Linked DNA regions of Homo sapiens: region 2 is linked to region 1. A link means that fine-mapping ties the variant in region 1 to the plasma level of a protein whose gene starts in the linked region. Region 1 holds a variant in brackets. A gene starts in the other region. All regions are shown on their reverse strands.

The links. PIP is the posterior inclusion probability: the model's chance that the variant is causal. Protein levels are from antibody-based Olink assays in UK Biobank. Linkage for the fine-mapping came from a reference panel and not from the study's own genotypes, which makes the PIPs less certain.
Region 2: CREG1 starts here. The variant in region 1 is fine-mapped to the plasma level of the CREG1 protein (UK Biobank, PIP above 0.99).

What each region holds. Positions count from the first base shown.
Region 1 is chr12:101,815,827-101,821,206 of GRCh38, reverse strand. All of the region lies in intron 1 of GNPTAB (N-acetylglucosamine-1-phosphate transferase subunits alpha and beta), which reads left to right. Among named protein-coding and RNA genes, the nearest start is that of GNPTAB, 12 kb to the left of the region's middle. The variant AG/G (reference allele first, on the strand shown) is at 2,830.
Region 2 is chr1:167,551,251-167,556,630 of GRCh38, reverse strand. It overlaps CREG1 (cellular repressor of E1A stimulated genes 1), which reads left to right and starts at 2,869. Exons shown (of 4, transcript NM_003851.3): 1 at 2,869-3,243. The coding sequence starts at 2,890. RefSeq lists a silencer at 2,731-3,180.

The DNA of each region.
Region 1 (5,380 bases):
AGTCAGACATTAACTGCCACTTCATTACTATTGTGAGAAATGCTGTAAAGAAATAGAGCATCGTTGTGGAAGAGACCAGCAGTGAGAATCAGTTTGGTCTGGTGGCAGGGGATCAGGAGATGCTTGCTTTTTTTTTTTTTTTTTTTTTTGAGACGGAGTCTCACTCTGCCGCCCAGTCTGGAGTGCAGTGGCCACTATCTTGGCTCACTGCAACCTCCACCTCCTGGGTTCAAGTGATTCTCCTGCCTCGGCCTCCTGAGTAGCTGGGATTACAGGCTTGCACTGCCACGCCCAGCAACTTTTTAAATTTTTAATAGAGATGGGGTTTCACTGGTTGGCCAGGCTGGTCTTGAACTCCTGACCTCAGGTGATCCACCCACCTCGGCCTCCCAAAGTGCTGGGATTACAGGTGTGAGCCACTGTGCCCAGCTGGGAGATGCTTTCTTGCTTGATGCTGTTTGAGTTCAACCGTAGAGGGTAAGAATTGCTGAGGCTGAGGACAGAGGAGGTCAAGTCAGCTCTAGGACAGTGGTTCTTAGCTAGGTGTGATTTTGCCAAATGTCTAGAAACATTTTTGGTTGATACAGCTGGGGCATGGCATGGGGTTGATGCTACTGGCATTTAGTGGGTAGAAGCCAGGGATCCTGCCAAACATCCTATAGTGCACAGGACAGCCCCTACAACAAAGAATCATCCAGCCCAAAATGTCGATAGTGCTGAAGTTGAGAAATCCGGAATTAGAAGGGGCAAGAATGGCTGCAGGGCAGTTAGTCTACAGGACTGGCCTGGGACTAGGTCAGTGGAAGGACATAGGAAGAGAAATGGACAGATTCAAGAGGCTTAAGAGGCAAAATCCTCCAGTCCTTATGTTCCATTATGTGCTAGGCACTCCACCAACATCTTGGGATACAAAAGTAAGCGAGATAGACAAGTTCATTTGCTCTCGCAGACCCTACTTGTAGTTCTTAAGTGAATATTTGTTGAATGAATACTTATAAGCATCAAAATTTATTTTTGTTGCTGATTGTGACTGAACTTAGGAAGAGTAGTTTAAGTGAGGTGCCTAATGTATGTAAGACATCTTGCGTAGAGGCTGGTCCTAGGCGTTCAGCTAATTAAGTGCCAACTGTCCCATCTCAGGATTGTTTTCCATGTGGCCAGAGTGCTCATGAAGAAAGGACAGGAGACCACCCTGTGAGCTTATGCCTCTTAATCTTTCCTTAAATACAGAACAGGAGAACTCACAGTGATTTCTTGACCTTGGTGTGCTGTGTTATGATTGCTATGAAATCAGAGGGAGCAAGTCCTTTATTTAATATAGCTTGTACTGTATACTAATATATGTAGGCTTCCTATAGTTCCTTCTAAAATATAACAGGTGTAACTATAATAGATTATATATATTCATGATATATCTTTTTAAAATTTCTGCTGTTCTTTAGATTGTTCTCATCTTGCGATACAGATGCAGAATCTTCAGCAGTTGATTAGTCAGCCTATGTGTGATTCGTATGCATACTAAATTACACAGGAAAAAGTGATCTTTCAGAAAGACCAGGTCAGGTCACACTCATTCAGGGAGTGAAACTCATTCTATGATCAGACTAAAAACCATATTGCCCACTTTAAGATTACTTCTCAAAATTGCTTCATTTTTTTAGGATTCTAGTTTTTCTTTTTCCTTTGATAAACCTTTTTCCCCCCCTTCATTTTCTCACTTCATTTCTGTCTCTCATTAATTCCCAATTAGATAAAGCTTCTAAAGCAAATTTTCAGAAGTTGTTCATGTGACAGGCTTATGGAGGTGTTCACTTTGGGCCAGTGTATTAGTCCATTTTCATACTGCTGTGAAGACATACGCGAGACTGGGTAGTTTATAAAGAAAAAGAGGTTTAGGCCAGACATGGTGGCTCATGCCTGTAATCCCAGCACTTTGGGAGGCCGGGGCAGGTGGATCACCTCAGGTCAGGAGTTCAAGACGAGCCTGGCGAACATGGTGAAACCCTGTCTCTACCAAAAATACAAAAATTTGCCAAGTGTGGTGGCGGGCACCTGTAATCCCAGATACTTGGGAGGCTGAGGCAGGAGAATTGCTTGAACCTGGGAGGTGGAGGTTGCAGTAAGCCAAGATCGTGTCATTGCACTCCAGCCTGGGCGACAAGAGCGAGACTCTGTCTCAAAAAAAAAAAAGGAAAAAGAGTTTTAATGTACTTGCAGTTCCACATGGCTGGGGATGCCTTACAATCATGGTGAAAGGGGAAAGAGGAGCAAAGGCACATCTTACATGGCAGCAGGCAAGAGAGCATGTGCAGAGGAACTGCCCTTTATAAAACCATCAGATCTTGTGAGACTTACTCACTATCACAGGAACAGCATGGGAAAAGCCTACTCCCATGATTCGGTTACCTCCCATCAGGTCCCTCCCATGACACATGGGGATTATGGGAGCTACAATTCAAAATGAGATTTGGGTGGGGACACAGGCAAACTATATTAGCCAGGTTGTCTACTGTTGACTAAAGACACAAAGGGCTGGGCACGGTGGCTCAGGCCTATAATCCCAACACTTTGGGAGTCTGAGGTGGGTGGATCACCTGAAGTCAGGAGTTTGAGACCAGCCTGGCAACATGGTGAAACCTCATCTCTACTAAAAATACAAAAATTAGTCGGGTGTGGTGTCAGGTGCCCGTAATCCCAGCTACTTGGGAGGCTGAGGCAGGAGAATCACTTGAATCTGGGAGATGGAGGTTGTGGTGAGCCGAGATCGTGCTACTGGACTCCAGCCTGGGCAACAGAGTAAGACTCTGTCTCCAAAAAAAAAAAAAAAAA[AG/G]ACACAAATATATTTAAGTTGCTTTCTGCTCTGGAGGAACTCATAGTCCAGGCAGGGAGGTGGACAGGCAAGTAGGCAAACTTGAAATGTGTTGTGATGAATGCAGTGCCAAGCACACTTTCTCAGATGGTGTGATACCTGAGCTTGGTCTGGAAGGAGATGGCTGAGTAAAGGAAGGGGAGTGTTTTTGTTTGTTTTGTTTCTTAAGGAAAAGATGCCATTGGTGTAAAGGTATGGATATGAGACATTATTAACTTCTAAGAACAAAAGTAGTTCTAAAGGGCTGCAGCATCTTTGGAGTGACAGGGGAATGAAGCCGAAGAGGCAGGCAGGGGCCAGTTTAGGACTTGCCTGCTGGGTGGTACTAAGGAATGTGAATTCATCCTGAAGAAAATGGGGACCATCAAAGGATTTTAAGGAAGAGAGTGATGAAATAAAATCTGTGCTTAGAACAGTTGCTCTGGAGGTAATGTGGAAGATGAATTGCAGGTGGGGGAAAACGGGCAACAGGAGACGGGGTGAAAATCCCACATCAAGTATAATGCTTCAGAATCCACAAGCTTTTTTGATATTTTTATTTTTTGAGACAGGATCTCGCTATGTTCCCCAGACTGGTCTTGAACTCCTGGGCTCAAGTGATCCTCCCACCTCAGCCTCCCCATAGCTGGGATTGTAGGCATGTGTCACCTTGGCTAGCTATTTAAAAAATTAATTACTTTAATTTTTAATTATTATGGCTATATAATAGTTATGCACATTTATGGAGTACATGTGATATTTTTATACATGCATACAATCTGTAATGATCAGGCTGGGTGCAATGGCTCACACCTGAATCCCAGCACTTTGAGAGGCTTAGGTGGGTGGGTTGCTTGAACTCAGGTGTTCAAGACCAGCCTGGGCAACATGACAAAACCCCATCTCTACAAAAAAATACAAAACTTAGCTAGGTGTGGTAGCACGTGCCTGTAGTCCCAGCTACTCTGGAGGCTGAGGTAGGAGGATCACTGGAGCCCAGGAGATTGAGGCTACATTGAGCCATGATTGTGCCACTGCTCCACCCTGGGTGACAGAGTGAGACCCTGTCTCAAAAAAAAAAAAAAAAAAAAAAGTGGAATGATAAAATCTGGGTAATGGGGATATCCATCATCTCAACCATGTATCATTTCTTTGTGTTGGGAACATTCTAGATCTTCACTTTTAGCTATTTTGAAATATACAATAAATTATTGTTAATTACAGTTGCCCTCTTGTGCTGTCGAACACCAGGACTATCTAACTATTTTTGTACCTATTAGCCAATCACTCTTCATCCCCACTGCCCCCACTACCCTTTCCATCCTCTGGCAACCACCATTCTATTCTCTACCTCCATGAGATCAGTTTTTTAGCTCCCACATATGAGTGAGAAATGTGAATGCAATTTGTTTTTCTGTGCCTGGCTTATTTTACTTCACATCATGTCCTCTGGTTCCATCCATGCGCTGCAAATTACAGGATTTTATTCTTATTTATGGCTGAATAATATCCCATTGTGTGTATAAACCATTTTCTTTATCCATTCATCCATTGATGGACACTTAGCTTGCCTCCAAATCTTGGCCATTGTGAATAGTGCTGAAATAAACATGGGAGTGTAGATAGCTCTTCATTATACGGATTTCCTTTCTTTTGGGTTTATACCCAGTAGTGGGATTGCTAGATCATATAGTCGTTCTATTTTTAGTTTTTTGAGGAATCTTCAAAGTGTTTTCCATAGTGGCTATACTAATTTACATTCCCACTAACAGAGTACAAGCATTGCCTTTTTGCCAAGTCCTTGCTAGCATTTCTTATTTTCTGTCTTTTTGATAATAGCCACTTTGACTAAGGTGAGATGTCTCACTGTGGTTTTAATTACATTTCCCTGATAACTTGTAATGTTGAGCATTTTTAAATATACCTATGGCCACTTACATGTGTCTTCTTTTGAGAAATGTCTATTCTGATATTTTGCCAATATTAAAATCAGATTATTTGGGTTTTTTTATGCCATTGAGTTGTTTGAGTTCCTTATATATTCTGATTATTAAACCCTTGTCAAATGAATAGTTTACAAATAATTTTTCTCATTCTGTAGGTAGTCTCTTCATTTTGTTGATTGTTTCCTTTGCTGTGCAGAAGCTTTTTAGATTGATGTAATCCCATTTGTCCATTTATCTTTGGCTGTGTATTCTCTTTAGGTCTTACTCCGTAAGTCTCTGCCCAGATGATTTTCCTGAATTTCCCCAGTTATTTTCTTCTAGTAGTTTCAAGTTTCAGGTCTTAGATTTAAGTCTTTAATCCATTTTGATTGAGTTTTGTATGTGGTGAGAGGTAGGGGTCCAGTTTCATTCTTCTGCATATGGAAATCCTTTTTCCCAGCACCATGTATTAAAGAGACTGTCCTTTCCCCATCGTATGTTCTTGGCACTTTTGTCAGAAATTAGTTGGCTGTAAATCTGTGGATTTATTTCTGAATTCTCTATTCTCTTCCATTGATCTTTGTGACTGTTTTATACCAGCACCATG
Region 2 (5,380 bases), not on the chromosome of region 1:
AAATTGAGGCCCAAAGGTAAGATAAAATCCCATGGTCACATGGCACGATAGTGGCAGACCTGAGATTAGAACTCCAAATGTGAGAGTATTCTTTCCTTAACAGGTAAGGGATGAAATGTTTATAACCGGCAGGTACTCAAACTATTTGTATTAATCATTTGTTTTTAAAATGATGAACCCAATTTTCCTCCTTTTGAATTTCTCCCACTTAGTTTTCCATCTATTTTGAAGTTCTTCCAAATTCAGTTGTTATAAAGCAAACCAACTTTGATTAAGGATCCTTCTTACCCCAATGTCGAAATCAGGGTGTGTGACATCATTTGGCCACCAGAGGGCACTGAAGTCTCCTGTTCAGAGTAGATGATCTTGCTTCTTCTGATACACAATTCCTACTGTGTAGCCTGAGAAGTTGGCTGAATATTAGGAGGCTGGTTTTGAGAAGGGAAGTAGCGGTGGGACTTTGGCTCACACACCTGTTGCCCACGGCTGCTCACATGACTGGCCAACAGCAGCTGAGTGAAATTACCTCACCTCTGTTACACAACTCAGCCTCACAGGGCCAGGTGTCTGCCAGAGCCAGCTTTACAAGATGACAAACTCTTGCACTAACACCACCATACAGTCTTTATAACAACAATTACAGTGGAAATTTGAGGCCAGGCCAAAAAGATTAAGACTTGCTCCAAAAAGACGTGACCAAAGCTTAAAGTCATAAAGAATGGAGGCCAGGTGCTATGAGCTTATTGACCAGTTTCCAGAATAGCAGAATCAGGAGCACCCGTGAGAGAATGAGACAGGCCATCTTAGAAGAAGCAAAAGGAATGTCCCTTACATGGAGCAGGGAAGGGCAGCGGGGGCAATAAATTCATGAAACCGCCGACCCCAAGCTTAATGTCTTAACAGGTCCTGAACTGGTAAGTTCAAATTTGTACATGGGATATTGATAGTAGACTAACAATCCCTTTGTGCGTCTATATGAGGGACTCCTGGGCCAGTAGTTTAAAAGGTCTTGACGGGCAATAACAAATGTTGGTGAGGATGTGGGGAAAAGGAAACCCTTGTACACTGTTGGTGGGAATGTAAATTAGAATAACCGCTTTGGAAAAAAATTTGGAGTTCCTCAAAAAATTAAAAATAGAGGTACCATATGATCCAGCAATCCCACAGCTAGGTATATCCCTAAAAGAAAGAAAATCAGTATATTGAGAGATGTCTGCACTCCTGTGTTTACTGCAGCACTATTCACAACAGCTAAGATTTGGAAGCAACCTAAGTGTCCATCATCAGATGAATGGATAAAGAAAATGTGGTATATATACACAATGGAGTACTATTCAGCCATAAAAAATGAATGGGATCCTGTCTGTCTTTGCAACAACATAGTTGGAACTGGAGGTTATTACGTGAAGTGAAATAAGCCAGGCACAGAAAGACAAACTTCACACATCCTCACTTATTTGTGGGAGCCTAAATGGAAACAATTGAACTCATGGAGACAGAGAGTAGAGGGATGGTTACCAGAGGCCAGGAAGGGTAGTGGGGGGACTTGCAGGGGAGGAGTGGGGATGGTTAATGGGTACAAAAAATAGTTAGAATAAGACCTAGTATTTCATAGCACAACAGGGTGACTATAGCCAATAATAATTTAAGTGTACATTTAAAATAACTAAAAGTATAATTGGATTGTTTGTAACACAAAGGATAAATGCTTGAGGCAATGGATACCCCATTTACCCTGATATGACTATTATGCATTGTATGCCTGTAGCAAAATATCTCATGTACCCCATAAATGTATACACCTACTATGTACCCACAAAAATTAAAAATTTTAAAATAAGTAAATAAAAAGTTTTTTAAAGGTCTTGAACTTTCGGGCTTCTGCCTAACTTTACTACTAGTGTAAGTGGGCCCCTTGAGATTTCAGCACCCCAGCATTTGTTAGTGACTGAAATAATGAAAATTCTGATCAGGCCCTTGCTTGCACATGTTGACAACTCTCTTTTTGCCCAATATCCCTTGTTCCTACAACATAATCATAAACTGCTGATGTACTGTTTCTTTATCAAGCAGGAGGAGATAATAACTTCAGGGTTACGAAAAAGTTTGCAGGAGGAATAAGTCCTTTGAAGTACTTTGAGGCCAGCTTCTGTCGCCCAGAAGTCTGATTGTTCAAGGAATTATCTGAGACTGAAGAAACACAGACTTTTTCCCTCGATTCCCTGAAACTCCCCCTCCCTGACTCGCTGGCCGCATAAACACTCTCTGCTTCTTCTTTTTGTTAGGGCGGATTTGAGAGATCTTGCCCTCCCGCCTTCTCGCTTTGGCCAAATCGAATAAACTTTTATCTCCAAGCACCTATATGTCAGTGTTTGGCATCAGCTACACATGGGGTACACGAGCCTGAGTCTGGGCTTCTACAACGCTGGGACCCTCGCTGTTCTTTGGAGCTGATGGTAAATTCAACAGAAAAGAGGCGCATGGGTAGAAAATGCAGCATTTCCTCTCAGATGCCAGATATTCATCTCCAAAGGTATTAAAAGGAGGGGGTGTGTGCCTGTGTAAAGAGGCTGGTCTTTTCCTAGCAGTACGATTTGGGCAAGTTGCTTGATTTCTTCAAGCCTTTCTTTTTCCGCCTGTCAAACAAAACAAAACAAATATCCCGTTTAGGACAAATTCACAATCCTTAAAGAGGGCAGGCAGAGCGATTGGAATGCAGATGAACCAATCCCTTCTCCTGCAGGTTGCGGAGCTGCAGAGGGACCCCGCCCCCTGCATTGTGCTTAGCTCTGATTGGCGCCTCGCGGAGGGGGCGGGGCCTGGGCGCGCCGAGCTCCGGCTGGGTCCCTGCAGGTCTTGGGGCCCGGGACTCTTCCTGGAGACACCGCCATGGCCGGGCTATCCCGCGGGTCCGCGCGCGCACTGCTCGCCGCCCTGCTGGCGTCGACGCTGTTGGCGCTGCTCGTGTCGCCCGCGCGGGGTCGCGGCGGCCGGGACCACGGGGACTGGGACGAGGCCTCCCGGCTGCCGCCGCTACCACCCCGCGAGGACGCGGCGCGCGTGGCCCGCTTCGTGACGCACGTCTCCGACTGGGGCGCTCTGGCCACCATCTCCACGCTGGAGGCGGTGCGCGGCCGGCCCTTCGCCGACGTCCTCTCGCTCAGCGACGGGCCCCCGGGCGCGGGCAGCGGCGTGCCCTATTTCTACCTGAGCCCGCTGCAGCTCTCCGTGAGCAACCTGCAGGTGAGCTGGGGCCCGCGGCTTCCCCAGGCGGGCTGTGGGCGGGGCGGCCACAGAGCGAGCCTTCACTCTCCCCAGAATTCTTCCCGGGAAGTGGAGCGTGGCTCGAACGGCTGTTGCTTCTCTGCCGCGCAGGCAGGTAGGTGGGCGTTGCAGCGTCCCAGATGTTGGGCAGCTGGGTACCAGGAATTTCCCACAAGCCTCCGCCACTGGGCCACGCACCTGGGGTAAATTCTCTGCCAGCAGCCCGAGGACTTCTCATCCGTGAGTGGTTCTCAGTCGTCTTGGGGCCCAGTGTCTCTATTAACTGTGCTCCTATTCTCTTTTTTTTTTTTTTTCCCTTTGAGACAGAATCTCACTTTGTGGCCCAGGCTGGAGTGCAGTGGCGCTATCTCAGCTTACTGCAACCTCTGCCTCCCAGGTTCAAGCGATTCTCGTGCCTCAGCCTACCGAGTAGCTGGGATTACAGGTGCGTGCCACCACACCCGGCTAATTTTTGTATTTTTAGTAGAGGCGGGGTTTCACCATGTTGGCCAGGCTGGTCTCAAACTCCTGACCTCACGTGATCCACCCATCTCAGCCTCCCAAAGTGCTGGGATTACAGGCGTGAACCACCGCGCCCTGCCTGGGCTCCTATTCTTAAAGGTTTTACAGGGCATAGAGATTGTTAGGTACTTAAGCACTTTAATATGTGACTTCAGGGTTTCTCACTCTCTTACCCTTCCTGAATTAAGCTTTTCCCTCCTGCAGCAAGACGCTAACGTACAATATCATGGACGATTACAATGATTACTGCAGTCTTTAGGCCTCCACAGGCATAGTGGCTCCTCAGTAAGATGCAGAGCTGATTGAAGGTGTATCTCTTCCTCGCCCTTTGCCCACCTTCTGGTGCAGGGCCACACTTACAACTCTGATGGATCTCTGCTGTCTCAGGGATGGGGTCACAGACACCCAGCTTGGGAGGCCGGAGACACACAGAGTCCAGGAATGGAGCCTGATTTGATGGAGGGTCTTTTTGACAAAGCTCTCACATTTGAGTTCAACTCTGAAAGTACAACATTGTTGATAAAGACAGGATGCAAGAAACTGATGCTTGATTAATCACTTTTCCATTTGCCTTCCATTCGTTGTCTCTTCTATTAATTCTTTGAAGTAGGTATTATATACCCCATTCTGCAGATGAAGAACTTGAGGCCTACCTAGGTTAAGTAACTTGTTTAAAGCCAGCGGGCAAACCCCTAGTTTCATCTCAGGTTCATCTTTCTTCAAACCACCTATCACAGGCTGGTGGCCCATCAGCTGAATATGTCCCACAGACCGGTTTGGCCTACACAAAGTTCTGTTTTGTTTTTAATAAATTTGAATTTGTTACCAACATTTTAAAATTTAGATTTTACTTTAAAATGTAAATCTCTAACTTTTCTTGAAAAATGGGAAGATCCAGTGACACTGTGGGCCTGCACTCTTTGAGCAAAAACAGAAGCAGTGCCCTCTTTTAGCTAAGGCAGATACACCCCAGTTCACCATTTTCTTATTCCCAGCCCATTCCACACCTTTAGGCGTTTGCTCAAAACAAACTCACTCCACTCCATCAGTGGTGCTCAACTTTGACTGCAAATCATAGTCACCTAAGAAGGCTTTAAAAATGGGATGCCAAGGTATTTTATTGAAAGCACATTTTATTTTAAGACAACACCCCTTCCCGCCTCCCCACAAACCACTCCCTGATGATTCTAATGGGGGAGGAGGGAGATTGACCAATACATAATCATATTTAAATTTGTGAGGTGACTAGGGAGTTGCTGGTATTATTGTCCCCATTTAGGAAGTGAGGAAACACAGACTCAGAGGTGCAGGGACTTACCCTGTGACCAGTCAGCTAATGGCTGTCAGGTAGGACATTAGCCCAGGTCTTTCATGTTTCTAGAAATAGACAGGGCAGTGGCAAGGAACCTACCCAGGGCTTTAGGTTTCCATGATGGCAGTGAAAAGAAGTGGCCACATTAGAATTTGTCTGACTTGATTCCATCAATTAGCAGGTCAAAGTTTCTGCTTTTTTCTTTTCCTCCTCCTGACCTCCAGGGTGCTCTGCATTTCTTCTCATTGACAGGGGGTGAAATCGTTCAGAAGGAACAAAAAG